Regions from separate parts of the Homo sapiens genome. Here regions 2, 3, 4, 5, 6 and 7 are each linked to region 1. Evidence: fine-mapped expression QTL. A gene starts in region 1. Each other region holds a variant in brackets. All regions are shown on one strand. Distances are from middle to middle.

Region 1 (4,203 bases):
GGGCTCCTACTAACCTCCGTTGTCATGGCCCCCACTACTGAATGAAATATTGGCAGTGATGTGTTTTCCATGTGCAGCCCCACTTGCCTTTGCCTCCAAGCCCTGACAGGAATTGCAATAGTTATGGCCATCTTAGTGAGAAATATAGAAGACCATGGACCCATCTGATGACCAACACCTAGTACTGTTGTTTCCCAAAAAACAATGTCAGCTGCCTAGGGGAGAAAAAGAATAATTGCCATCATTGCTGAGCTTAAGGAAGCCAAAATGTTTCATGAGACTGTTTCTCCATTCAATAGCCCCATCTGGCCTGTGCACAAGACCTTGGTTTCTTGGAGACTTACCACTGATTTTAGGCAGCTCAATGCGTAATACCACCTTTGGCACCAGCAGTACCTGACATTGTGACTATTACAGAGGCCCAAAACAGAGAGAACTTGGTATGCAGCAATTGATATTGCAAAGGCATATCAAATTGTAGTCCCCAGTGTTGGAGATGGGGCCTGGTGAGAGGCGATTAGATCATAGGGGCAGATTTCCCCTCTAGTTTTGTTCTAATGATAGTGAGTAATCATGACATCTGGCTGTTTAAAAGTGTAGCATCGGCTGGGCATGCCCTCAGCCTCCCAAGTGTCTGGGATTACAGGCACTTGCCACCATGCCCCGCTAATTTTTGTATTTTTAGTAGAGATGGGGTTTTACCATGTTGGCCAGGTTGGTCTTGAACTCCTGACCTCGTGATCTGCCCACCTTGGCCTCCCAAAGTGCTGGGATTACAGGCATGAGCCACTGTGCCCAGCCTAGTCTCTAGCTTTTAACTGGATCTCAGCTCTGGGCAGAGCCCACGCTGAATCCTGGATCTCCAAAAGATAGAATTATCATGATTCTAGACCATGTGATGCATTTGCACTGCACTTTGTTACAAAGACTTTCCTCTAAGTGTCTAAAGTATACCTTTTCTTATCTTAAACACCCGAAGAGTAGCCTCTGTTGTAATAACTTAGTCCAAAAATCAGGTAACACAGTACAAAAGCAAGCAGTTTAAGATCTGAGAGGAACTTGTCTGTTTAGACTCTTGGGGTTCCATAAGGAAAAACAGATGTTTCTCCTCAAAAAGGACTCTAGTGCCTTCTCTGTTTTATTTAAGGAATTACAGGCTGTTAGAAACTATTTTGGGTCCCTCATGCAGCAGAGGGGAACAAGAGAAAGGAGAGATAGGCAGAAGTAAATGGAGAAAACAGAATTCATTTGACTGACTGAGAAGGAAAAAACCTTTTTCTCAAAAAACAAGGTACTAGGAGAGAAAAAAAAAACAGGCCAGGCACGGTGGCTTACGCCTGTAATCCCAGCATTTTGGGAGGCTGAGGAAGGCAGATTACCTGAGGTTGTCGGGAGTTTGAGACCAGCCTGACCAACATGGAGAAATCCCATCTCTACTAAAAATACAAAATTAACTGGGTGTGGTGTCGTATGCCTGTAATCCCAGCTATTTGGGAGGCCGAGGCAGGAGAATTGCTTGAACCCGGGAGGTAGAGGTTGCAGTGAGCCAAGATCGCACCATTGCACTCCAGCCTGGGCAACAAGAGTGAAACTCCTTCTCAAACAAACAAAACAAAACAAAAAACCATAAAGGCCTTTTAAATATACACACACACACACACATCGTGGATATTAGCTTTTAATTAAACTGACTTTTAGCCACTAAGCTCTTAAAAAATTCTTCTAAATCTCACTACCCTATTTTAGCTGGAACAAATTGCTGATATTTCAAAAATAACACAAATATCAAACCAGAAAGAACTTGATTTAGGAACCAAACCCAGGCTGTTGTGGTGGAAAAAAGGGCAAAACCTTAGCTACAGAACTGCAGTGTGGAGCACAGTTTGGCTTGGCTAGCAAAAGGTGGCCTTGTTATGTAAATAAAGCCCCTCAGGTAGTCAAAATCTTTCTTTTTTCCTGTTGATGGCTGTTTATCCTTTTCCCTTTTCCCCCCCAGCTGCAGGAATTTACCCAATGCAGAGGCGTTGTTCCTCACCATTTGTAACTTTCCTTCACATTTGATATAGTTGGGTAGAGTTAGTCAAATCCAATGGGAAAAAGACCAAAACAACAAAACAAACAAATAAATGAAAAAACAGTTTGGCAAAACAAACAAATGATCATACTATGTATACAATTCCTGAGCACTCTAATGGTAAGGAGAAATTAAGAGCTGCTGGTTGTTAATCTTAACTTTAGGTCATTAAGGAGAATTTTCAAGATAAAACCCCAATTCAGCTACTTACCTAGGAATGGAGTCCAGGCTCAACACTGCTCTCTACCAGCCTATAAGCAGGAAAAAAACTCCAACTCGCCTTCCCTGTTGGAATTGAGCTGAAACTCCAGAAAGGAGTTGCCTGCCCTCCATCATCATGGAAGCAGGAAAACTCACCTTCCTTGTTGAAAGTGAGTAAAACTCCAGAAAAGGAGTTGTACAGCAAAAAAAAACCTTAGATATCGACCAAATTTGGGGAGATCAGGGTGAGGGAAGAGACGGACCCTCTCATATTGTTTTATATTGTTTTATACTCAGTACCTGTTTTAAGAAAAAAACAAGGAAGTGAAACCAAGGGCAGGCAGCCAGGCACCAGACCCAAAACCAGAACTGAAACCAGGCCTGGGCCTGCCTGGCCTAAACCTAGTAGTTAAAAATCAACTCATGACTTAGCAACCGATGTTATCCATAGATTCCAGACATTGTATGGAAGAACGCTGTGAAACTCCCTGCTCTGTTCTGTTTCACTCTGACTACCGGTGCATGAAGCCCCTGTCACATACCCCCTAGATTGCTCAATCAATCACGACCCTTTCATGTGAAATCTTTAGTGTTATGAGCCCTTAAAAAGGACAGAAACTGTGCACTCGAGGAGCTCGGATTTTAAGACAGTAGCTTGCCGATGCTCCCAGCTGAATAAAGCCCTTCCTTCTACAACTCAGTGTCTGAAAGATTTTGTCTGCAGCTCGTCCTGCTACAAGGGATTGTCTGGAGGGGGGAAGTTCCCAGGCCTCAGCAAATCTGCCTATTGATTTGAGCAATAAAGATATCTCAAGCTGGTACCAAGCAGTAATAGAAGATTTGTCAAAGGTCAGGGGCACCTCCACTCAGAATCCCTTGGTGGTTACCAATTTGTAAACCAAAAAGTATCTGAGCTAGGTCTCAATTAACTTGGAAATTTTATTTTACCAAGGTTAAGAACATGCATCTGGAAGGCAGGTCTATGCCTTTTTCCAAAGAAGATTTTGTGGACTTCAGTATTTAAAGGCAAAAGGGCAGATATTGGGGGAAAAGGAAAAAAAATTAAAGGTGTGGGTAGATAACAGACAAATGGTTGCATTATTTTGAGTGTTTGATAAACCTTTCACTGAATACACAGTTTACATGTGAGAGAAGGGTAGAGGAATAGTTACTTATGCCTTTGTCAGCTCAGTGAATCTGCATTTTTACATTAGGAAAGCAATCAGATATGCATCTGTCTCAGATGAACAGAAGGATGACTTTGAGTTCTGTTCTTTGTCTAGAACCTGTGAAGATAAGCTATCAATTTACATTGTCAGGGTAAAATTCAACAGAACCATTTTAAGGTAAACATCTTGGGGCTCAAAAGGAATGTCCCAGTGGACAAATTGTGAGACATGTATGTAGCTTTTTTTTTTGTTTGTAGCTATCTTATTTAAGAATAAAATGGGAGGTAGGTTTGCCTGATGCAGTTCCCAGCTTGACTTTTCCCTTTGGCTTAATGATTTTGGAGTCCTGAGATTTATTTTCCTTTTACAAGACATTACCATTCCAAAAGAATGAATATGGGAGGCATAAAGTGGTTTCTTGTCCCAAGTAAGTTCAAAATTTAGCATGGCAGGGCCAGGTGTGGTGGCTCACGCCTATAATCCCAGCACTTTGTGATGCTGAGGTGAGTGGATCACTTGAGGTCAGGAGTTCGAGACCAGCCTGGGTAACATGGTGAAACCCCCCTCCTCGTCTCTACTAAAATACAAAAATTAGAGGGGCATTGTGGTGAGTTCCTGTCATCCCAGCTACTCAGGAAGCTGAGGCAGGAGAATTGCTTGAACCTGGCAGGTGGAGGTTGCAGTGAGCTGAGATTGTACCACTGCACTCCAGCCTGCGTGACAGAATGAGATTTCATCTCAAAAAAGTAAATAAATAAA
Region 2 (4,203 bases), 530 kb after region 1:
GATCAGCCAGACCAACATGGAGAAACCCCGTCTCTACTAAAACTACAAAAAATTAGCCGGGCGTGGTGGCACATGCCTGTAATCCCAGCTACTTGGAAAGCTAAGGCAGGAGAATCGCTTGAACCCGGGAGGCAGAGGTTGCGGTGAGCTGAGATCGTGCCATTGCACTTCAGCCTGGCAACAAGAGCGAAACTCCATCTCAAAAAAAAAAAAAAAAAGTAAAATGATTAGGAGATGATGAGTTTTGGGACATTGATTACCTTAGTTTTTAATATAATTTATTTAATTGTAATTTTATATATTTTAAAATAAGTGCTATGCTTAATGACTGACTCACAAAACTTCTGAAAATATAGCATCTGGCTCTCATGGGCCAGAGGGAGCCAGCTCCAGCACATACCCGGGGCCAACTATATTTCCAAGTCCTGAATGACCCTCATCCCTACTCCCATGCCCCTTTGCCATTCATTCAGGACCCCATAGCCCACCGCCTTTGATGGGAGCTCCTGGATTCCAAAGCAAACCCTAGCTGGCACCAAAGCCTCACTGCCACCTTGAGCGAGAGTTCTGGCGACAGATTGACAACAGTGGCTTTTCCATGGGTGGGTGGCCTCTTTTTGCCTGGGAAGGGGTGGAAGAGAGCCAGGGACACTTGCATTGACTCTGGAATGCACACCTGGCAAGCACTCAAGTCTAAGAGGAAGAGAAAGATCAAGGTGTGAGTGCAGGGGAGCTCTGGCTCAGCCCTCTGTCAACTTGGCCCTGCTCCTGGCTGGGCTGAAATTGACTTCGGAAGGCTTTCCAGAAAGGCTGGTGATGCTGGAGACTGTGGGCTGGGGGGCAGGGCAAACATTTCTCTTCTGCCTCCAGGATGTTACTCAGAGCTCTGGAAGCTACTCCCAAGGGTGATCCAGTGTTTGCCCTTGAAGTCTACATTTTCGGCCCTATTTCCTTTTCAGCAGTAGAAGTGGCTGGCAGTGGAATTTGGGTCTGGGCCTCGTGCTGAGTGGCTGTCGGCTTTGGAATCTGACCCTCCCTGGTGGAAAAAGCTGGGCCAGCATTTGGGGCAGTCCTCAGCGTGCAGGCCCTATATGCTGTCTACTTTGGGCCACACGCACTTGGCTTTGCTCCTCAGGTAACCCCTGGGAAACCTATCAGGTGCAACTGCTCTGATGCAGTTGGGGCAGTGTTGTGATGGGCTGCTGTGATGTCACTGCATGAATGAAGGTTCTGTGTTTGCACCTAGGCTGGCAGCTCTCCAGGGGCACAGTCCTCAGCCCCACCCTAGCCAGCACTCAGTAGAAGGACCAGCCCTCAGAGACTGGCTGAATGAATTGATGAGTACAAGCCTGGCTGACATTCAAGATTTCTTCCTGGTGAAACAGAAGCACAGTGTGGAGTCCTGTGTGGAAGCTCTCATCTTGACGTCTTGTACAAAGAGTGTCCTTCATTATTGCTAACACTAGAGGGGAGGGGAACCTCACTAATCCCCCCCTGCCCGACACGTACAAACACACAAAGGTTTCTACTAGCCGGATGTTCTGTAACCAGGAAGTTCAGATGCCTTTTTTTTTCTCCCAGTCTATGAGAAAAGTCACCTCTGTCCCCACCCACATGCGCACTGCTACACGCTGTGCCTACCAAGGCTGGCAGAAGTGTGCTGGCTGGGAGTGATTTGCTCTTGGCATCAGCCTGAGAATATCCTGTGCGGCTGAGAAGGTGGTGCTGCCCTCTCTGCAACACAGGGATTGGGAATTGATCGGGGCGAGGGGGCACACACTAAGGACTCAATGCACTCTGAAAGGGGAGGGCTCCAACATCAACAGAATTACAAGTGCTCCACTCCCTGCCATGCCCCCTGCATCCCAGCATTCACACACATCCTCCCGCAGATGCTGTCTGACACTATTCACAGGGGTTTGGAAAAAAGGGAAGGCCTGCCATAAAGTCTGCAAAGAGGTGTGACTATGGAGTTTCAGTAGGAAAAAAATCTCTGGGGGACCACAATTCCTATT[G/T]TCCTTATGGCTATGGATCATGGTTATGGTTATGGACAATTAAGGAGGCGATGTAAAAATCACTGTCCAGGAACCCTCCCTGCATGTCCCCGAGGATGACACCTCCACACCCTTGTCAACATGTCCTGGGCTTAATGACCCTGTGAGTGCACCTAGCTTTGAAAGTTCTGGTGTTTGCACGTGTGTGTGTGTGTGCGCGCGCACACGTGTGTGTGTGTGTGAAGGAGAGAGAAACAGTGAGAGAGAGAAAATTAATACTCTTGTTTCCAGACTAGACTTTGCTTCTGTGCTCGAAACACACACACTCCCATCCAAGTGCCTCCTGGACAGCCCCACTTACACATCCTATAGGCAACTCAAATTGAATCTACCCAACACAACTTGTCATCCTTTCCTTCCCCCTCAAACTCACAGTTTGTCCTGCCTGATGATCCCTTTCTCAATAAGTGGCACTGCCACTCACCTACCTGGCCAAGCAGGAAATCTGGGCACACCCTCGTCTCACACTCCCATAGGCCTAGTCATCAAGTCAGGCCTGTTCTAGCCTTCACGTTTTCACTTCAACAACCTCGCTCTCCATGCACGGTCACTACTTCAGGTCAGGCCCCCATCTATGTGGAAGTGCAGCAAGGCCTCCTGATGAGCTTTCCTGCCTCTAGTTCCCCCACTATCCCCACCCCCCCCTCCAATCCATTCTCAACCCTCTCAACAAACCAGTCCCGAAGGAAGTGCCCAAGGCAGCAGGAAGCAGACCTGCCTGACAAGTCTTTCTCTCCAGGTTGTAGGTGCCTGATGTTCCCCCTTATTCCAGTAGTTTCTGGGGACAGCACTGCCATATTAGCTAGCTCACCACTCTAGGTTATCTGATTCACCCTACTGGCATTGGCAGAAAGGAAGGAATGTGAACTGAGAAGAAAGTTTTGAGGCTGGGCGCGGTGGCTCATGCCTGTAATCCCAGCACTTTGGGAGGCCAAAGCGGGCGGAATACCTGAGGTCAGGAGTTTGAGACCAGTCTGACCAACATGGTGAAACCCCATCTCTACTAAAAATACAAAATTAGCTGGGCATTGTGGCACATGCCTGTAATCCCAGCTACTCAGGAGGCTGAGGCAGGAGAATTGCTTGAACCTGGGAAGTGGAGGTTGCAGTGAGCCGAGATCGCGCCACTGCACTCCAGGCTGGGCAACAAGAGCAACACTCCGTCTCAAAAAAAAAAAAAAAAATTGACACCAATGAGGAAGTCAGGGGAAGGCCCAGAGAAGGGTAATGCGCATGTCCATAGGACCAGAGGGGATTTGTGGGGAGTGGCTTCCTGAAAAGGTGTGGGCTGGGTTCTGAAGGGACAGCCCATGAGGAAGCCTGGCCCTGAAGAAGGCAGGGCCAGTGGAAGGGAGAGGTCTCAGCTTGCCAGCTCCTGCCATGACAGGTGACTGTGCTTCCCTCCCAAGGTCTTTCTGTGGGGAGAGCCAGCAAATAGCTCTCAGGGGGAGAGTTATGATCTCCCAGAATGTGGTGTCCAGGCTTCCTTCCAGGAGGGAGAAAGAAACTGGCAAGAGGAAATTTGGGGGTGGGGTTGAAAAAGGGCTCCCATTCTCCCACTCAAGACCTATGACCTGAAAAGTTGACAGAGCCACGCATTTCTTCCTCTGGGTGGGCGGATCCTGATCGTCTTCAGAGTCTGAGGGAGGCTTTTTCTCTTACAAAACTCAAGTCTCTTCTTAACCCCCATCCTCTAGGCCAGCTGGAGAGACAGCCCCCTATAAGATATAGCTTGCACCAACCCCTCTCCAGTCCTGCAAGGTGACATTGAAGCCCGTGCCCTTCTGTGGCCGCCTCTGACATCTCCAGGACACTGCCGCAACCAGTTCTCCAGGATGTGACACCACCAGACTTCTTGAGAAGAGCCCACCGTGCCTCATTCATCTTTGTATCTGTACTATGATGTGTCGCTCAAACATAACCAGAGCTAAGAAGATGACCACCATGCATCCTTCTACTCAGCCTGCAAAATGCCCATCTTTTCTCTATCCTGGTACTTCCTCCAAGGTCAACCCCTTCCCCTACACCCTTTTCGTTTTTTGTCCTGTGTTTGCTTTTTGGAGACAGGGTCTTGCTCTGTTGCCCAGGCTGGAGTGCAGTGGCGTGATCATGGCTCACTGAAACTTGACTTCCTGGGCTCAATCGATCC
Region 3 (4,203 bases), 66 kb before region 1:
TGTCTTCCACTATGGTTGAACTAATTTACACTCCCACCAACAGTGTAAAAGCATTCCTATTTCTCCACATCCTCTCCAGCATCTGTTGTTTCCTGACTTTTTAATGATCGCCATTCTAACTGGCATGAGAAGTTATCTCATTGTGGCTTTGATTTGCATTTCTCTAATGGCAAGTGATGATGAGCTTTTTGTCATATGTTTGTTGGCTGCATAAATGTCTTCTTTTGAGAAGTGTCTGCTCATATCCTTCAACCACTTTTTGATGGGGTTGTTTTTTTTTTCTTGTAAATTTATTTAAGTTCCTTGTAGATTCTGGATATTAGCCCTTGGTCAGATGGGTAGATTGCAAAAATTTTCTCCCGTTCTGTAGGTTGCCTGTTCACTCTGATGATAGTTTCTTTTGCTGTGCAGAAGCTCTTTAGTTTAATTAGATCCCATTTGTCAATTTTGGCTTTTGTTGCCATTACTTTTGGTGTTTTAGACATGAAGTCTTTGCCCATGCCTATGTCCTGAATGGTATTTCCTAGGTTTTCTTCTAGGGTTTTTATGGTTTTCAGTCTTACATTTAAGTCTTTGATCCATCTTGAGTTAATTTTTGTATAAAGTGTAAGGAAGCAGTTTCAGTTTTCTGCATATGGCTAGCCAGTTTTCCCAACAAAATACCTAGGAATACAGCTAACAAGGGATGTGAAGGACCTCTTCAACGAGAACTACAAACCACTGTTCAAGGAAATAAGAGAAGACACAAACAAATGGAAAAAAAACATTCCATGCTCATGGATAGGAAGAATCAATATTGTGAAAATGGCCATACTGCCCAAAGTAAAGAGAAAAAGAGTCTGGTATTCTAGAGGGAGATTAAAAACAGATGCCAAATCAAACATAAAATTGTAAAAATCTATCATAGGATTGTATAAGGGGACCAATTTTATCAATATAGGTAGTTTTAAATTTAGTCTCTTACTATTTAACTGGATCTCTGAGGTCTGAGGCAGAGCCCACACTGAATTCTGAATCTCCAAAAGAGAAATTTTCATGAGCCTAGAACATGTGATGCTTTTATAATGCACTTTCTTTGTGAAGACATTTCTCTTAGTGTCTAAACTATACTCTTTCTGATTTTAAACACCCAAGAATAGCCACTGTTGTAATAACTACTTTAGTCAAAACAAAATCAGGTAACAATACAAAAGCAAGCTATTTAAGATTTGAGAAGAACTTGTCTGTTTATACTCTTAAGGTTCCATACGGAAAAACAGAGGTTTCTCCCCAAAATGGAGTCTGGCACCTTCTCTGTTTTCTTTAAGGAATCTCAGGCTGTTAAAAACCATTTTAGGTCCCTCATGCAGCAGAGAGGGGCAAAAGGAAGGAGAGACAGGAAGAAAAATGGAGAAAACAGAATTCAGTCAACTGAGAAAAACAAAACTTTTTCTACAAAAAAAATGAAGTTCTAGGAAAAAAAACCATAAAGGCCTTTTAAGTGGACACACACACACACATACACACACACACACACACACACACACACACACCCAAAATCTTCAATATTAGCTTTTTAATTAAGCAGATTCATAGCCATTGAGCTCTTCCAAAAAAAAAAATCCTTTTAAGCCGGGTGTGGTGCCTCACACCTGTAATCCCAGCACTGGGAGGCCAAGGTGGGTGGGTCACTTGAGGTCAGGAGTTTGAGACCAGCCTGGCCAACATGGTGAAACCCTGTCTCTACTAAAAATACAAAAATTAGCCTGGTGTGGTGGCACATGCCTGTAATCCCAGCTACTCAGGAGGCTAAGGCAGGAGAATTGCATGAACCCAGCAGGCAGGTTGCAGTAAGCCGAGAATGTGCCACTGTACTCCAGCCTGGGCAACAGAGCAAGACTCCATCTCAAAGAAAAATCCTTTTAAATCTCATTGCCATATTTTAACTGAGACAAATTGCTCATACTTCAACAGTAACATAAATATGAAACCTGAAAGGACTTGATTTAGGAACCAAACCCAGGGTGTTGTGGTGGGAAAAAAGGGCAGAACCATAGCTACTGAACTGCACCATGGGACAACAGCTGTTGCTCTTTCAGTTTGGCTTGGCTAGCAAAAAGTGGCCTTGTTATGTAAGTAAAACCCCTCAGTAGTTAAAATCTTTCCTCTTTTTCCCCTTTGCTGGTCATTTTTTCTTTTTCCTTTTTTTCCC[C/T]AGCTGTGGGAATTTAGCTAATTCAGTGGCATTGTTCCCCATAATTTGGAAATTTCCTTCAGATTTGACTAAGTCTGATAGAGTTTATCAAATCCAATGGAAAAAAGACCAAAAGAAGAACAAAAATAGAAACAAACAAAAATAGTTAAGCAAAACAAACAAAAAATTGCACAACTTATACAATTACTGAGCACTCTAAAGGTAAGTAGAAATTAAGAGCAGCTGGTTGTTAATTTTAACTTTAGTCATTAAGGAGAATTTCCAAGACAAAATCCCAATTCAGTTACTTACCTAGGAATGGAGCCCAGTCTGAAGATGGCTCTCTACCATCCTAGAAGCAGGAAACAACTTCAACTCACCTTCCCTGTTGGAAGTGAGCTCACACTCCAAAAAGGAGTTGCCTGCTCTCCATCAACATGAAGCAGGACAATTCACCTTCCTTGTGTAAAACTCCAGAAAAGGAGTTGTACAACAAAATAAACCTTAGATCTCAGCCAAATTTGAGGAGATCATGGATTCTCTGAAGGGGGAGCTCCCAGGACTTCACAAATTGTCCTATTGGTTTGAACAATAAAGATAGCTCAAACTGGTACCAAGCACCAATAGGAGATTTGTCAAAGGTTAGGGGAACCTCCACTCAGAAGCCATTCCTGGTTACCAACTTGTGAACCAAAAGTATCTGAGACAGGTTCCAATCAATTTAGAAAGTTTATTTTACCAAAGTTAAGGATGCACCCATGACACAGTCTCAGAAGGTCCTAATGACATGAAATGTAGCAGGACGATCCACAGACAAAACTCCTCAGGCACCAGGTTAAAGACGGAAGGAGCTTTATTTGGCCAGCAGTGTCGGCAGACTCATGTCTCAAAAACCGAACTCCCTGAGTGAGCAATTCCTGTCCCTTTTAAGGGCTTACAACTCTAAGGGGGTCCACATGAGAGGGTCGTGTTCGATTGAGCAAGCAGGGGATATGTGACTGGGGGCTGCATGCACCAGTAATCAGAACAGAACAGAACAGGACAGGGATTTTCACAATGTTTTTCCATACAATGTCTGGAATCTATAGACAACATAACCAATTAGGTCAGGGGTCGATCTTTAACTACCAGGCCTGGAATGCAGTGCTGGGCTGTCTGACTACTGATTTCACTTCTGTCTTTTAACTCCTACTTTTTCTTTGAGGCAGAAATTGGGCATATGACAATATGAGGGGTGGTCTCCTCCCTTATTCCCCCCTTTGAGAACCTCACTCATTAGTGGGAGTTCTCACTTTCATCCTCACTACCCATGTCTTCTTGCAAGACAGATCAATAGTGATTTATATAGTACACCTGTGCTGAAGCATTTTGGTGAACTAAGGTAGCGGTGAAGCTTTTTATTACTTGTAGGAGTACAGGTAGCAAACAAGGGAGTAGTAAGCAGGTTCTTATTGCTATTATAATTTTTATTATAAGAGTTTTAAATGCTCTTAGCCCTAGAAACCATTTTCCAAACATGGCTCCAGGATTAAGTCCATGCCATACTTGCATGGGCACATGTGCCAGTTTTGTCATATCTTTTTGTCTTCAACTACTTGCCCTTGATCATTTATGTGCAAACAGCAATTGGTTAGGTAAAATTTTCCACAGACTCCTCCTTCAGCTGCTAGCAAGTAGTCTAGGACTAGTCTATTTTGATAGATAGCATTTCTCATCTGGGTTTTTGCTGGGCTAAAACAGTTAAAGCTCTGCCAGTTTTATTAGTGATTACTTCTCAGACAGCTTATAACCGTATGATTCGGTTGATAGTATAAATGGGGGTTGGGTATCCCCATGAGCCATCTTGTGCCTAAGTGGTAGGCCCATAGTACTGTATGATTCTTTCAGGGGGCCACTTGTCATCTTTCCAGTCGCCTATAGCTATGCTTCTCTTTTCTTGGGAAGCATAGACTGGGAAGCCTAGAAGTTCGCCTGTTTTTATGGGCAGTAGGAAAAAGGATGGGTTATAGCACACATCAGGCTGGTCACTTCCT
Region 4 (4,203 bases), 100 kb before region 1:
TTTAAAAGAGGCAAAGGCAGAGGAGAACAAAGGAAGGAGGAAGTAATTTATGGAATGCTGAGAAAGGTAAAAACACCTTCAAATAAGGAAAAGGAACAGGCTATCCTAATGCTTGCTTGGACCAGTATAAGCATGCCAGGGCAAATATTTAGGCTAAATTGTGGAAGCTAAGAACATAAAGTACATTGATTTCTTTATTACAGCTCACAGATATTTAAGAATGTTAGCCCAGGTCTTTGAATAAATTTTGCTTCTAAGAGAAGTTACTATTTCTTCCTAATTAGATGGGGAGGAAAGTCTTTGAAGAGGAACCTCTACTTTACTTTTCACAATCATGAAATGAAATTAGAAACCAATAGCAGAAGGGAAACTGGGAAATTCACAAATATGCGGAAATAAATAATATGCTGTTAAACAACAAATGGATTGAAGAAGATATCACCAGGGAAACTAGAAAATACTTAGAGATGCATTAAAATGAAGACACAAACTCCCAAAACCTATGAAATGCAGCAAAAACAATGCTCAGAGGAAAATCTATACCTAAAAACACCTACATTAAAAAAGAAGAAATGTGCAAAATCAATAATCGAACTTACACATTTAGAAACTAGCAAAGGAGAGGAAACTAGACCAAAGCTAGCAGAAGGAAGGAAATAATAAAGAATGGAGACAAACAAAATAGAGAATAGGAAAGCAATATAAACTATCAGCAGATCCAAAATGTGGTTCTCTGAAAGATCAACAAAGTTGACAAACTTTTAGCCAGACTAACAAAAGAGGGAATATCAAAAACTAAAATAAGAAATGAAAGAGGGGATAATACTGGTAAAAAAAAAAAAAAAAAAAAAAAAAAACCAGACACATAGACCAATGGAAAAGAATAGAGAGCCCAGAAATAAAGCTGCACACCTATGGCCATTTGATCTCTTACAAACTTGACAAAAATAAGCAATGGGGAAAGGACTCCCTATTCAGTAAATGGTGCTGAGATAGCTAACTAGCTATATGCAGAAGAATGAAACTGGGCCCCTACATATCATATACAAAAATTATCTGAAGATGGGTTATCATATACAAACATTTTATCATATACAAAAATTAACTGAAGATGGGTTAAAGATTTAAATGTAAGATATCAAACTATAAGAACCCTAGAAAATCTAGGAAACACCATTCTGGACATCAGCCTCAAGAAAGAGTTTGTGAGTAAGTCCTCAAAAGCAATTGCAACAAAAACAAAAATTGACAATTGGGACCCAAGTAAACTAAAGCACTTTTGCATAGCAAAAGAAGCTATAAACAGAGTAAATAGACAACCCACAGAATGGGAGAAAATATTCACAAACTATGCATCCAACAAAGGCCTACTATCCAGAATCTATAAGGAAACAATTCAAGAAATAAAAAACAAGTAACTCCATTAAAAAGCAGGCAAAAAACACATGAACAGACACTTTTCAAAAGGAGACATACAAGTGGCCAACAAACATTTGAAAAAATGTTCAATATCACTAATCATCAGAGAAATGCAAATCAAAACCACAATGAGATACCATCTCACACCCATCAGAATAGCTATTATTAATAAATCAAAAAACAACAGATGCTGGTGAGGCTGCAGAAGAAAGGACACTTACACACTGTTGGTGGAAATGTCAATTAGTTCAGCCACTTTGGAGAGCAATTTGGAGAATTCTCAAAGAACTTAAAACAGAATTATCATTTGACCCAGCAATCCCATTACTGGCATACATCCAAAAGAAAATAAACTGTTCTACCAAAAAGACACATTCACTCATATATTCATCACAGCAATATTCACTGTAGTGAAGACATGGAATCAACCTAGGTGCCTATCAATGGTGGACTGGATAAAGAAAATGTGGCACACATACACCGTGGCATACCGTGCAGACATAAAAAGAATGAAATCATGTCCTTTGCAGCAACAAGGATGCAGCTGGAGGCCATTATCCTAAGTTAATTAACATAGGAACAGAACACCAAATACTGCATGTACTCACTTATAGTGGTAGCTAAACATTGGGTACTCATGGACATAAAGATGGCAATAATAGGCACTAGGGACTGATGGGGGGAGGTAGGGAAGGGGGCAAGGGTTGAAAAACTAACTGTTGGGTACTATGTTCACTAGTATCCCATCC[G/A]GATGACAGGACCATTCAGATCTCAAACCTCAACATCATGCAATATACTCATGTAACAAACCTGCACATGTATCCCCTGAATCAAAAATAAAAGCTGAAATTATTTTTTTAGAAAAAGAAGAGGGGATGTTACCACTGATTTGACAGAAATAAAAAGGATTATAAGAAAATACTATGAACATTGTATTTCAACAAATTAGATGCCCTAATACATTGAAAAACAATTCCTACAAACACACAAACTACCAAAACTGACTCAAGAATAAATAGAAAATCTGCAAAGACTTATAACAAGTATGATATTTGACAATAGTGCCAAACCATTCAAAGTGAAACCACTTCCTCTGGGGCAATACCTGTAGTTAGTTGTCTCGCGCCGATGATTAACAACATGGACACACACGTGGAGTGGGTTAAGGAGCAGAAAGTTTAACAGACAAAAAGGAAGAGAGATAGAATAAGCTTCCTCATGCTGAGAAAGCGGGTCACCTGAGAGAGGGTTTCTGGGTTAGGTGCAGAACGTGATCAATTTTGTACAAAGGCTTGAGGAGGCGGTGATTGATTTACATAGAGCCCAGGGGATTGGTTTGACCAGGTGCTCCATTTACACAGTCCATGAAAAGACTGGCCCTCCAACCCTAATCTTTTATTATGCAATTATGGCTTCTATCTGACTGTCACCATGACACCTGCACATGTGACTTTACCTGGCTAGTGCCATGACACCCGCACACGTGGCCACAAAGAAAAGGGAGCGAGAATCGCCATATTGAATGTACCTGGCTTCCAGGTACAGCTGATGGCATTTACATATGAAAGCTAGCTTGCATAGCTATGCTTGCAGCTTGAAGTTTCAGGCTGCTTTCTGTTAGAAAAGAAATGGTTTGGGGGCTGCTTTTTATTAATGGAAAATTCCACCAAGAACTCTTTACCCTTTCTAATTGCCTAAAATAATTTTTAATAACTGCTGTATTAAAAGGATATGTGTACCGAAACTAAGCCAAAACACAACTTTAATAGGCTTAAGATCTCTGTGTGTTTGCTCCTAGACAAAACAAATGGGGTACAGAACAAACAAAAACATGTTGATAGGAGAGAGAATGGATCATGGTCTTTCATAGAGCATTCTGTGCTTCTGGACTCAGAAAAGCTGTCAGACACCTGTTTATGGTTTATTACAGCTACAGAAAACACATTAAAAACAGCAAAGGAAAAAGGTATCACTTGAAGAGAGCAGATATTCACATTTCAAATTAAATACTTCAGGAAATCCAGTTTAAATAATTGAAAGCAAAACTCAAATGCCAAAAGTGGGTAAATATTTAGTCATATTTTCTTGTAAGTTTCTTTAGATTAATTGTTGATATTATTGTTGCTGCTGTTGAATATCCATTGTCTTCCTATCCTTAACACTACAGGAACACAAATACGTCATTGTAGATATATTAGCGTAAGCCATTCCCTACTCTTCTAACCAATTCTGAACTCTTAACCGTGTGATTTCAAATAAAAAATTTTCCCACGATATGCTCTGTAGTAAAGATATAAATAGGTTTGTAACAATGACATTTGGGGAAATTTATCAGGGCTTTACATGTATTTACATAATAGAAACAGGCAGAGAATGCTTAAGGACACTAATCCCATTTGTGAAGACTCTACCCTCATGACCTAATAACCTACCAAAGGCCCCACTTTCTAATACAATCACATTAGGGGTTAGGATTTCAACGTATGAATTTGGCGGGGACACAAACATTGAGTCTATAGCACTGTCATATACTAGTGTTCTGTAGCAGATTAGCAAATTTATGAACACACAGTTTCACAATTTCTAGAGGAATATGCTTCCTCATTGTATAATTTTTCATGTTCATTAACAGAACCAGATGTATTTAGCTTCACTATATCATATAAAAATAAAACACCAGGCCGGGCACGGTGGCTCATGCCTGTAATCCCAACACTTTGGGAGGCCAAGGCAGGTAGATCATGAGGTCAGGAGACTGAGACCATCCTGGCTAACACAGTGAAA
Region 5 (4,203 bases), 90 kb after region 1:
CAGCACGCCAGTTAAGTTATCAGGGATCACAGGTCTGTATTGACTAAGAAGTATTCTAAAAGAAAATTCTTTTTAGAAATTATGTAGTTCGGGTTTTGATCCTGCAAATTCTTTCAAAAGAGGTTAGTGATTAAAAACATTGTTTTAATCTCGCAGTCTCTAAAACAATTGTTGGCATAATTGGAAAGCATCCTCAAATTCAAATGGACACAAACTACAAGAGTCCCCCTAACACCCACTCCTTAAATTCCATTTCCACAACCCAGATCCCTGCCTCAGTCCGCTGGGTGTTAGCCATGCACCTGCCCAGACAGCTGCAGAGTCTCAGACTTTGAAGAGGAGTAGTGAATGGAAGCTGAATACCTCCATATCCCATAACACACAAATGGTTTAATTCCTGTAGAGAATGGATCAGGTCAGGTGAGGTGGCTCACGCCTGTGATCCCAGCACTTTGGGAGGCCGAGGTGGGCGGATCACTTGAGCTCAGGGGTTCCAGACCCACCTGGGCAACATGGCGAAACCTTGTCTCTACCAAAAATGTCAAAACTTAGCCAGGCATGGTGGTATGCGCCTGTTGTCCCCGCTACTCGGGAGGCTGAGGTGGGAAGATCGCTTGAACCCAGGAGGCGGAGGTTGCAGTGAGCCAAGATAGTGCCACTGCACTTTAGCCTGGGTGACAGAGTGAGACCCCCATCTCAAAAAAAAAAAATTTAAAGAAGAATAGGCCAGGCGCGGTGGCTCATGCCTGTAATCCCAGCACTTTGGGAGGGTGAGGCAGGCGGATCATGAGGTCAGGAGTTCAAGACCAGCCTGGCCAACACAGTGAAATCCTGTCTCTACTAAAAATACAAAAATTAGCTGGGCATGGTGGCGCATGCCTGAAGTCCCAGCTACTTGGGAGGCTGAGGCAGGAGAATCACTTGAACCTGGGAGGCAGAGGTTGCCCAGGCTGGAGTGCAGTGGCAGGACCCAAACTCTGCAAGCCTGATCCCACTGGCTGTCTGCACCTCCCTGTGTGCTCTAGCTCCCCCTCACTGCCAACTCATGAAACACAGGCTGCTCCCAGGATACCTGGCAAGAAGAGCACCATGCCATTCAGATGTGCAGGAGTAGGGGTTTTCTCTTTCCAACTAAAGTACATGTCCACCAGCCATGGGGCAGGTAGACCAATCACTGTTGCAGAGTTGGTTTTATAGGCAACTGATGTGAAGGTGTACTGCCTGTTGTCGCAAAAGTTAGGCAGTAGGTTTTCCATTGAAAACTTTCTTATTAGAAATTCTCCCCAATCTCCATCCCAAATCACAGAATTTCTCTTACTCGATTAAGTTTTTGGACCTGGCCCCATGACAAATTAGTTATACATAGAAGATATCCAATAGTGTGGTCCACTCTTTCCATTTAACATTATTTCATACGTCTTTCCCTTAAATTCCAAAAAAAGGAGATTTCTGATAATCAATTGGCATTAATTTTCATGATCTGATAAATTACTTCTTAGGAAAATCCCAGAGGCCATCATGCTACTGGCAGGCTGGACTTGGAATTTCTTCAGCAAACCTATGTACCTTCAAAAATCCAAATTGAGGGCTGTGCATGGAGGCTCACGCCTGTGATCCCAGTACTTTAGGAAGCGGAGGCCGGCAGATCATTGGAGGTCAGGAGTTTGAGACCAGCCTGGCTTACAGGGTAAAACCCAGTCTCTACCAAAAATACAAAAATTACCTGGGCATGGTGGTGGGCACCTGTAATCCCAGCTACTTGGGAGGCTGAGGCATGAGGACTGCTTGAACCCAGGAGGCAGAGGT[T/C]GCAGTGAGCCAAGATCCTGCCACTGCACTCCAGCCTGGGCAACAGAGCAAGACTCTGTCTCAAAAAAAAAAGTCGAAATCAGTAGAATTAATGTTGGAATGCCCTTTGATTTAAAAACAGTAGAGGCCTAGGTGCAGTGGTTCAAGCCTGTAATGACAGCACATTGAGATGCCGAGGTGTGAGGATCACTTGAGTCCATGAGTTCAAGACCAGCTTGGGCAACATGGCAAAACCCCATGTCTACAAAAAATTTAAAAATTAGCGAACCATGGCACATGCCAGCTACTCAGGAGGCTGAGGTGGGAGGATCCCTTGAACTCAGGAGGTGGAGGTTGCAGTGAGCCAAGATCACACCACTGCACTCCAGTCTGGGTGAGGGAGCCAGACACTGTTTCACAAAAGAAAAAAGAAAAGAAAAACAGTATAAAATGAATAGAAATGCTGGGCGTGGTGGCTCACGCCTGTAATCCCAGCACTTTGAGAGGCTGAGGCGGGCGGATCACAAGGTCAAGAGATCAAGACCATCCTGGCCAACATGGTGAAACTCTGTCTCTACTAAAACTACAAAAATTAGCTGGGCATGGTGGCACGCCCCTGTAATCCCAGCTACTCAGGAGGCTGAGGCAGGAAAATAGCTTGAACCCTAGAGGCAGAGATTGCAGTGAGCCAAGATCACGCCACTGCACTCCAGCCTGCTTACAGAGCGAGACTCCATGTAAAAAAAAAAAAAAAAAAAAAAAAAGAATAGGAATACTGATCCTTAACTCTATATTGCTGGGCTGGCATACAATGAGACTAGTTTAAGGAGCTGGACAAAGAGGGGATTACAAATTCCTTTTGCTGGATAGATAATAGAGGCTGGGTAGGGTATGTGGGAGGAAGCAGAAGGATGAAGAGAAATAGGTTAAAGGGTACAAACATACAGTAAGATAGAAGAAATAAATTCAATGGTTTTTGTTGTTGTTTTAAGACAGTGTCTCACTCTGTCGCCCATGGAGTGCAGTGGATCAATCACGGCTCACTGCAACTTCGATTTCCGGGCTCAAGTAAGTGTTCCTCCCACCTCAGTCTCCTGAGTAGCTGGCATGCACCACCACACTCGCCAAATTTTTAAATTTTTTGTAGAGACAGGGTCTCCCTATGTTTCCCAGGCTGGTCTCCAACTCCTGGGCTCAAGTGATTGGCCCGCCTCGGCCTCCCAAATTTCTGGAGTTACAGGTGTAAGTCACCATGCCCAGCCCCAAATTCAATGTTTGATATTGACAGCATGGTAGAGTGAGAGTACACTATTTTTTTTTGGAAACACAGTCTCACTCTGTTGCCCAGGCTGGAGTGCAGTGGTGCAATCTCACTCTCGGCTCACTGCAACCTCAGCCTCCCGGGTTCAAGCGATTCTCGTGCCTCAGCCACCCTAGTAGCTGAGATTACAGGCACGTGCCACCAGGCCCAGCTAATTTTTGTATTTTTAGTGGAGACAGGGTTTCGCCATGTTGGCCAGGCTGGTCTCAAACTCCTGACCTCAAGTGATCCACCCGCCTCTGCCTCCCAAAGTGCTGGGATTACAGACGTGAGCCACCATACCAGGCCGAGAGTACACTTAACAAAAATGTATTGTGCTCAGATAATGGACACCTTAAATACCCTGACGTCATCACTACACATTATATACATGTAACAAAATTTCACATGTATCCCATAGATTTGTACAAATTTAAAAAATAATAAAAAATTAGCTGTGCATGATGGCACATGTCTGTAATCCCAGCTACTCAGGAGGCTGAGGCAGGAGAATCACTTGAACCTGGGAGGCGGAGGTTGCAGTGAGCCAGGATAGCCACTGCACTCCAGCCTGGATGACAGAGGGAGCCCTTGTCTCAAAAATAAAAAAATAAAAAATAAAATGACACTTTTTGGGGAAAAAAATACAAGCCAGACGCAGTGGCTCACACCTATAATCCTAGCACTTTGGGAGGCCGAGGCTGGCGGATCGCTTGAGCCCAGGAGTTCAAGACCACCTGGGCAACAAGGTGAAACCCTGTTTCCCCCGACCCCCCTCAAAAAAAAAACTACCCAGGCTTGGTGTCGCATGCGCCTGTAATCCCAGCTATTCAGGAGGCTGAGGTGGGAGGATAGCTTGAGCCCGGGGAGGCGGAGGTTTGCAGGGAGCTGAGATCTTGCCACTGTACTCCATCCTGGGCGACAGAGTGAGCAGAGTGAGTTCCAGTCTCAAAAAAAAAAAACCTCCTTTTGCTGGGGCATATTGGTGGAGACGGTGGCTAGGGGATAAGTATGCAGTTTTTCTCTAGGCGGGAAACTTAATTGAAGTTTATCAGGCGCGAGTCATTAACAAAATTTGCGCCCTCTAAGCTAACACGGCAATATGGGGCTTAGACACC
Region 6 (4,132 bases), 130 kb after region 1:
TTTTTGTATTTTTAGTAGAGACAGGGTTTCACCATGTTGGTCAGGCTGATCTTGAACTCCTGACCTCACGTGATCTGCCCACCTTGGCCTCCCAAACTGTTGGGATTACAGGCGTGAGCCACCATGCCCGGCCAATATTAAAACATTTCTAACAGGGCTGACTTATCTGTAAGGCATAGTAAGCTCAATACCTAGGGCCCACAAAAAAAATGTGTTCATTTCTTTTAAAATTAGAAGAAAAAGGCCGGGCACAGTGGCTCACGCCTGTAATCCCAGCACTTTGGGAGGCCGAGGAGGGCGGATCACCTGAGGTCGGGAGTTCGAGACCAGCCTGACCAACGTGGAGTAATCCAGTCTCTACTAAAAATACAAAATTAGCCCAGCGTGGTGGTGCATGCCTGTAATCCCAGCTACTTGGGAGGCTGAGGCAGGAGAATCGTTTGAACCCGGGAGGCGGAGATTGTGGTGAGACGAGATTGCGCCATTGCACACCAGCCTGGGCAACAAAAGCAAAACTCTGCCTCAAAAAAAAGAAGAAGAATATATGAATTTTAGGGTCATGATTATATTCATCTTTATACCAGTGCTGTCTTGAATTTTTTCATCTTTTGAAGGAGAAAGGGGGATACAAAGGGAAGAGTGCCTAGGGCCCACAGAAGTCAAAATGCATCCCTGATTCCTGGCACAGGGCCTTAGATTTCACAGGTATTCAACAAATTCAATTCAACTGAACTTCCTTGGGCTGGCTCTCAGGGCACCAGAAGCTTCTGAATCAAAGAAGAGCCTGAATTAAGATGAAGGTTCACAGAAGGAAGGAATTGGGAGAGTCTAACAAGTCCCAGTAATGTGGAGAGGGAGTACAGGAGACATCAAAAAGATTTCAGGCCCTCCTTTAAAAAAAATGTAGGCTGGCCTTTTGCCTCAGCTTATTTCAAACTTGTACCCAATTGGCTGTTTCAGTCCAGAGAAGAGCACTGGACTCGAGATTCCTTGAGATCAGGAGCTGTGTATTCTTTCATGTATCATTATTCCTTTTTTCTGAGACAGGGTCTTACTCTGTCACCTAGGCTGGAGTGCAGTGGCACGATCATGGCTCATTGTAGCCTCAACCTTCCCGGGCTTAAGTGACCCTCCCGCCTCAGCCTCCCAAGTAGCTGAGACTACATACAGGCATGCACCACCACACCTGGCTAATTTTTATATTTTTTGTAGAGATGACAGTCTCCCTATATTGCCCAGGCTGGTCTCAAACTCCTAGGCTCAAGTGATCCACTGGCCTCGGCCTCCCAAAGTCATTATTCCTTCCTTTTTTTTTTTTTGAGACGGAGTCCCTCTCTGTCTTCCAGGCTGGAGTGCAGTGACGTGATCTCGGCACACTGCAACCTCCGCCTCCTGGGTTCAAGCGATTCTCCTTCCTCAGCCTCCTGAGTAGCTGGGATTACAGGTGCTCACCACCACGCCCAGCTAATTTTTGTATTTTTAGTAGAGATCCAGGCTGGTCTTGAACTCCTGACCTCAGGTAATCCACATGCCTCGGCCTCCCAAAGTGCTGGGATTATAGGCACGAGCCACCACGCCTGGCCCCAAAATCATTACTCCTTTTAATGAAGGGGCCCAACAGTCAACCCCTTATGGCTCATTGGAGCATGCCTCTTTTTTTTTTTTTTTATGTTTTTGAGATGAAGTCTTGCTCCGTCACCCAGGCTTGAGTACAGTGGCGTTTTCTCGGCTCACTGCAACCTCCGCCTCCCGAGTTCAAGTGATTCTTCTGCCTCAGCCTCCCGAGTAGCTGGCATTACAGGTGTGCACCACCACATTTGGCTAATTTTTGTATTTTTAGTAGAGATGGAGTTTCTGTGCTCGCTTCGGCAGCACATATAGTAGAGACGGAGTTTCACCATGTTGGCCAGGCTGGTCTCAAACTCCTGGCCACAGGTGATCCACCTGCCTCGGCCTTCCAAAGTGTTGGGATTACAGGCATGAGCCAC[C/T]GCACCCAGCCAGAGCATGCCTTTTTTTTCAACTGTTCTATATTACTCAATATACTTTTCTAGCCCTAATGTTTAATCTGTCACACAATCACAGACTTTATAACATTGAATAGGTCACTAGAGATAATCTAATGCAGCCCTTCACTTTGCAGATGAGGATACCAGGGCCTAGAAGTAGGTAGGGACAGTCTAACACAATAAACTGGGACTGGTACCCAGGACTCCTGAGCAGCCCGCTCAGTGCTTTCTCCACCCCACTAGAAGCCTCAGTTCTAAGAGTTTCTTCTTCTCAGCTTGGCTCTTAGTGGATTTTTCCTCCCTTTTGTGAATGAAGGCAGCCTTACACATGACATTAAATTTAACTATTTTCATCAGGCGAATCTCCTCCCATTTTTATCCGTGTGCAGGCAGCAGACTTTTATGTATCAGCAGTGAGTGTGTTTTGTGATTTTTACATGATACTGCTTCATATACTCACTTCCAGGAAACAGTATCTCACTGTACTACTTGATCATGGATGGCTTAGCCAACTACATACTACTGGACACTCACAATCAACAGACACATAGAAGTATATGCACAAGGCAAAAAACAATGAAAAAGTATATGCACAAAACTGTTATCCATGGTTAAGTGACCTTTGGGGTAATAGAAACGGGTATTTTGGGTAATTTCATTTTCTAATTTGTATCTTTTTGCTCACTGGGCATTTTTTATAGTGATGTCTTTTTTTTATTATAAAAGTAATTTTAACTGTCTGAGGTGATGGGCATTCTCTGATTTTTCTTTTATAAGGAACCCATTTGTATATTCCTGTTGCCAGACTGTGTTCCTGAAGAGAATGAACCAACTTTGCCATTGGCAATGTGTAAGTGTTCCCTCCCCACAACTATACCATCCTATACCATCCTTCTTTTTTTTTTTTTTTTTTGACAGAGTCTCACTCTGTTGCCCAGGCTGGAGTGCAGTGGTGCGATCTCAGCTCACTGCAACCTCCGCCTCCCAGGTTCAAGTGATTCTCCTGCCTCAGCCTCCCAAGCAGCTGGGATTACAGGCACACACTACCACACCCAGTTAATTTTTTTGTATTTTTGTAGAGACAGGGTTTCACCATGTTGACCAGGCTGTTCTCAAACTCCAGACCTCAAGTGATCCGCCCGCCTCGCCCTCCCAAAGTGCTGGGATTACAGGCGTGAGCCACCGCGCCCAGCCTGTACCAGCCTTCTGATACCAGGTTTAATTATTCGTATTCACATTGTAGTACCTTAAAATCATTTGAATTTGTATTTTTAAATGATAATAAAAGTCTGCATTATTTTTGTCATCCAAAAGTACTTTTCCTGGGTCAGTAGAAGCTGATGAGAAAAAACAAATAAGAAAAAAAAATACTTTTCCTACTGTGGTGGAAAGAATATATCAGATAGAACTGACTGGGTGCAGTGGCTCACACCGGGTGCAGTGGCCACTGCCAGTGGCTGGCAGTAATCCCAGCACTTTAGGAGGCCGAGGCAGGAGGACCACTTGAGGCCAGGAGTTCAAGACCAGCCTGAGCAACAAAGTGAGACCTCATCTCTACAAAAAAATAAAAAATTTACTCGGCCATGGTGCTGTGTACCCATAGTCCTAGCTACTCAGGAGGCTGAGGCAGGAGGATCACTTGAGCCCAGGAGTTTGAGGCTGCAGTGAGCCGAGATTGCGCCACTGCACTCCAGCTTGGGCGACAGAGCAAGACTCTGTCTCAATAAATAAATAAATAAATAAATATTTTTTAAAAAGAATGTATCAGGCCAGGCACAGTGGCTCACGCTTGTAATCCCAGCACTTTGGGAGGCTGAGGTGGGCAGATCACTTGAGGTCAGGAGTTTGAGACCAGACTGGCCAACATGGTGAAACCCCATCTCTACTAAAAATGCAAAAATTAGCCAGGCATGGTAGCATGCACCTGTAGTCCCATCTACTCGGGAGCCTGAGGCAGGAGAATCCCTTGAACCCAGGAGGCAGAGGTTGCAGTGAGCCAAGATGGTGCCACTGCACTGCAGCCCTGGGTGACAGAGCAATGCCCTGTCCCACAAAAAAAAAAAAAAAATCAGACAGACATATGATCATAACTTTGTTTTGCTGCTCAATCAGAGAGAGGTTGGGCA
Region 7 (4,203 bases), 230 kb before region 1:
AGGGATGTTGAAGCTAAAACAAGGAAGGTCATCATTCTCTTGGGGTCCCTATAATAAAAAGTCATCCTTAAATAGAGGAGCCACACATGGGTCTAGCCCAAGAGGCCTCCTCTACTTTTATATCAAAGTAAATTACATTGATTTCAGGAATTTGCACTTTATAATGAACCCTTTAAGTAGGGACAATAATACATCTGGTGATGGTTACCACAAATTATAAGATAGGAAACCTCTCTTTTGGGTATGGAGCCATCATTCCTCATTCAAATCCTACCCCAGAAATGAAAGCAAGATTGAGAATGCCAACGGTGACTTGGATTGTTGGTTTCAGTTCAATCAATGTTTACTCTGTGTTCCATGTGCCACGCATTGAGCCAGGAGCTGTGGAAATAGAAATTAAATGAGACAGTCCCTGCGTTAGTCTAGGGACTTGGGGGTGGGGGGTCAGGGGACAGTAGTGGGGACAAAAAAGTAAAGAAAACATTACCCAGAATGCTATGGAAACAGCATACCTAACCCAGAAAAGGGATCCAGATTTAGCTACCTAGTCCAAACCTATACTATGGGCTTGTAGCAGAGACTTTGGGGATTGTTAGAAGCCTCTCCTTTTTTTTTTTTTTTGAGACAGAGTCTTGCCCTGTCGCTCAGGCTGGAGTGCAATGGCACAATCTTGGCTCACTGCAACCTCCACCTCCTGGGGTCAAGCGATTCTCCTGCCTCAGCCTCCCGAGTAGCTGGGATTACAGGTGCGTGCCACCATGCCCGGCTATTTTTTTTTTTTTTTTTGTATCTTTTGTAGAGACAGGGTTTCACCATGTTGGCCAGGCTGGTCTCAAACTCCTGACCTCGTGATTCACCCGCCTCGGCCTCCCAAAGTGCTGGGATTACAGGCATGAGCCACCGTGCCTGGCCCACCCTTACTTTTTAATAACAGCTACTATTCACTGAGTACTTACTATGTACTAAGCATTGTGCTAAGTGCTTTACATATATCATCATTCAATCATTTACCTCTTTAAGAGAAGTACTCTTGCAATTGCCATTTTTAAGATAAGATGACTGAATCATGGAGAGATTAAGTGACTTCACCAAAGTCACAGAGGTGGTAAGTGAAAGAGTAAGGATTTATATCTAGGGCTGACTGATTCCAGAGATTGGGTTGGGGGATTTTTGAAGTTGTGAATCTAAGCGGAGCACAGCTCTTTCCCCAGTTAATTTTGGGATATTTATACTTTCTACTGGATATTTATACTTTCTACTGGACTCATGGTCCTCAGAAAGGGTCTCTTTACTCTTGATCCCCACTGAAAAAGGATTCCCTTCCTTCATGCATTCCTCAGAGGGGAATTCAGGGGCTGCTTGGACACTTTTTATATGTCTCCCACTTCTTTCCCTAGGCTCAAGATGTCTTTAGTATTTCCTGTTTGAAGACTTTATAATTGTATAGCCTAAGTCTTGAGGGGGTAAGATTTTAAGTGATTTCTCTCTAGAACTTAAATGGTTTCATTTTAGTATTTTAGTTTAGCTTTCTTTTGCTCACCAAGTTTCATTCCCTTATAGTTTCATAGGCGAAAATACCATTCTTTACACAAGAAAGTCAGCCAGGCGCGGTGGCTCACGCCTGTAATCCCAGCATTTTGGGAGGCCAAGGCGGGCGATCACCTGAGGTCGGGAGTTCGAGACCAGCCTGACCAACACGGAGAAACCCCATCTCTACTAAAAATACAAAATTAGCTAGGCATGGTGGTGCATGCCTGTAATCACAGCTACTCAGGAGGCTGAGGCAGGAGAATCACTTGAACCCAGGAGGTGGAGGTTGTGGTGAGCCGAGATCACGCCATTGCACTCCAGCCTGGGCAACAAGAGAGAAGCGCTGTATAAAAAAAAAAAAAAAAGGAAAGTCAAGAGGGCAGGAAACGTCTGCTTATATTCCCAGATAAATAAAAAGGAGTCAGCAAATGCACTCCAGATCTGACAATAAAACCACCTGAAGCACAGACCCACCCCCAAAAGGCCAGAGCTCCCTCATGCTCTTCTGATTGTAAAATGACCTAAGTTACAGCCAGAAAATGGACCTTTCTAGACTTTCTTCTGAATGACTTCCCATTTTGGTTATTTCCAAGTAGGACTATTTCTGTGACTTTGGGTTTGGTGATTTCAACTTCCTTTTGACCCTGAGGCTAATAGGAGGATGAGGAAAAAAGACTTATAATGTTTTGTTTTAACCCCTCAAAGTCATACCCTTATTGGGTAGCTGTCCAGTGAGGAAGCTTGGGAAACACTTCTTGTGGTCAGACATGAGCAAGGATTTGGGTCTGATCAGC[T/CT]GGCCCTGAGGAAGTTTTGAGTGCTGAGCTTAGAGAAACTGGATTCTTTCAAACACTGGGCTCCAGGGTGTCCTTGCTTCTCAGGAACTCCTCATACTCCAAAGCAGGAAGGATATAAGCTGAGACTACCTTTGCCTCCTCGCTCATCTGTCCAACACTCATTTCTCTTGTCCTTTGCACTATTTCCCCACCACCCCTTCAGCTTTAGCCAAGTAGTCCAAAATCTGTAGGGTACAAAGCATCAGTTTTCACTTCTGCTGGGAAATTAAACCCAGCTATTTATAAACCCCTCAAGGTTCCCAGCAATATTTCCCAGTCTGGCATACTGGGCCAGTACCCCTACTTTACTCTAACCATGGAATGGTCCCTTTCCTATCCATTTGGTGACCAGCCAAGTTTAAGCTTAAAACGAAAGTCTCAACCTATGCAATTCAAAAGTGCCTCTATTTTTCCTCTTTATTTAATCACGAGGGTACACTAGGTTTCACCCTAGCCACTAAAAGTTACTCATTATAAATTGGGCCCATTTATTAAAAGGATTGCTTTGATCCTAGGAGGGTACAGTTTATGGCACAGGTTGCTGAGAGCCTTAGAAGGCTGTTGTTGCTATCACTCAACTTTTTCTTCCCCCCGCCACCCGCCCGCCACCCCGCTGTCAAGTCTTTCCTTTCGTCCCCTCCTTTCCCTTGTTCCTGACTCATCCTTTTTTTTTTCCTCTTTCTTTTACCCACTCTTCTCTCCATCTCCCTAGCCTTTGCTTCCAGGGGCAGAACAGAGAGGGAATGCACAATACCGACAGATGCTGGGATTTTACCCTTGGGACACAGTGTCTTTAACTAGTAATTATCACCAGCCAGTTCCTGGGCTCTTTGTGAAGTCACTGTCCCACAAGGCTCCTGGAGAGAAGCATGCCCTGACGGAAATGCGCATTGATCTTGAAGGGTGTGGGTCAGCCATCAGGCAGGCAGGAGGCAGGCTAAGGTGGAAGAGGAAAGCCATCTGTGTCCCTGAAAGGGTGGTGCTCCTCTTCAAGCACCATCAGCCTGTTGGCCACCCCAGCCTCTAAGAAGCCGCTCAGGAAGCTGGAGCTGACTAGGCCCAGCAGTAGGCTATTTAGATGCTCTTCGTGCTTGGTGGTGCACAAGGATTCAAAGTTCTGTTCTCCTGAGCTGCCCACAGCATTATTAAAGTCACACTCTCAGGCAGGAACCAGAATACACCAGGCCAACTCCCTGGCTGCGACAAAGCCAGATCTTTCCCAAGGTGCCTGCCTGTTGCTAGGAAACTATGCACTGGTACTATGGGCCTTTTCCCCCGCTAAACCCCAAGGGTGTGTGGACTGCAGCCAGTTAGCTCCCTAGCTCTGCCAGGAACCCTTCAGCTTTATCCTTAAGACTCCCAGCATCCTCAAAGGGAAGTGAGAATCATGACCCCCTCCCCCCATACTTCTCAAACACAAAACTAAGAAGTGAAAACCCAAGGGCCGTTGTACCACCCCCTTTTATTATCAAAGTGTACAACTGCCACCCACAGCAGCTGCTGCCCACAGAAGCCTTTTAATGCCTCTCAGGACAGAACTGCCTTTAGCTTCACTTCAGGAAACTTGCCTCTCCCTTCTGTGGCTGGGAACACCTAAAACTGGCCTGCTGCCTCTCATGTCATCTCTGTAGTGGGATTTAGAGAGGCAGTGAGTGCCATATGCCCAGGCACAGAGATTCTTTGCCCTGGTGGGTCTTTGTTCCCCTCTCTGGTTAAGAGGAGAGAGTTCTTAGTTGAGGAAAGCAACAGAACAGGAGGGAGGGAGAGGAGGAGGAAGGGAGAGTTTGAAGGGTGCAAGATGGAAAATCAGGAAATCACTATACCGATGTTTTTAACAAAG

Evidence for each region. PIP is the estimated chance that this variant, and not a neighbour inherited with it, causes the effect.
Region 2: its variant is fine-mapped to the expression of RHOXF1-AS1 in cerebellar hemisphere (GTEx, PIP 0.96).
Region 3: its variant is fine-mapped to the expression of RHOXF1-AS1 in whole blood (TOPMed, PIP above 0.99).
Region 4: its variant is fine-mapped to the expression of RHOXF1-AS1 in thyroid (GTEx, PIP above 0.99). The same link has a PIP of 0.9 or more in tibial nerve and transverse colon.
Region 5: its variant is fine-mapped to the expression of RHOXF1-AS1 in whole blood (TOPMed, PIP above 0.99). The same link has a PIP of 0.9 or more in amygdala, anterior cingulate cortex, caudate, cerebellar hemisphere, cerebellum and hippocampus.
Region 6: its variant is fine-mapped to the expression of RHOXF1-AS1 in hypothalamus (GTEx, PIP 0.97). The same link has a PIP of 0.9 or more in whole blood.
Region 7: its variant is fine-mapped to the expression of RHOXF1-AS1 in cerebellar hemisphere (GTEx, PIP above 0.99). The same link has a PIP of 0.9 or more in nucleus accumbens.

The regions. Positions count from the first base shown.
Region 1 is chrX:120,034,615-120,038,817 of GRCh38, reverse strand. It overlaps RHOXF1-AS1 (RHOXF1 antisense RNA 1), which reads right to left and starts at 2,582. Exons shown (of 5, transcript NR_131238.1): 1 at 2,286-2,582.
Region 2 is chrX:119,500,264-119,504,466 of GRCh38, reverse strand. No RefSeq gene overlaps it. Among named protein-coding and RNA genes, the nearest start is that of SLC25A5-AS1, 33 kb to the right of the region's middle. RefSeq lists a silencer at 707-1,001 and an enhancer at 3,457-3,536. The variant G/T (reference allele first, on the strand shown) is at 2,016.
Region 3 is chrX:120,100,451-120,104,653 of GRCh38, reverse strand. The region is part of intron 1 of RHOXF1-AS1 (RHOXF1 antisense RNA 1); the gene reads right to left. Among named protein-coding and RNA genes, the nearest start is that of RHOXF1, 13 kb to the left of the region's middle. The variant C/T (reference allele first, on the strand shown) is at 2,192.
Region 4 is chrX:120,139,171-120,143,373 of GRCh38, reverse strand. All of the region lies in intron 3 of RHOXF1-AS1 (RHOXF1 antisense RNA 1), which reads right to left. Among named protein-coding and RNA genes, the nearest start is that of RHOXF2, 17 kb to the left of the region's middle. The variant G/A (reference allele first, on the strand shown) is at 2,169.
Region 5 is chrX:119,944,150-119,948,352 of GRCh38, reverse strand. No RefSeq gene overlaps it. Among named protein-coding and RNA genes, the nearest start is that of NKAP, 2.5 kb to the right of the region's middle. The variant T/C (reference allele first, on the strand shown) is at 1,807.
Region 6 is chrX:119,907,072-119,911,203 of GRCh38, reverse strand. The region is part of intron 4 of AKAP14 (A-kinase anchoring protein 14); the gene reads right to left. Among named protein-coding and RNA genes, the nearest start is that of AKAP14, 13 kb to the right of the region's middle. The variant C/T (reference allele first, on the strand shown) is at 1,989.
Region 7 is chrX:120,262,572-120,266,774 of GRCh38, reverse strand. All of the region lies in intron 8 of TMEM255A (transmembrane protein 255A), which reads left to right. Among named protein-coding and RNA genes, the nearest start is that of ZBTB33, 14 kb to the right of the region's middle. The variant T/CT (reference allele first, on the strand shown) is at 2,325.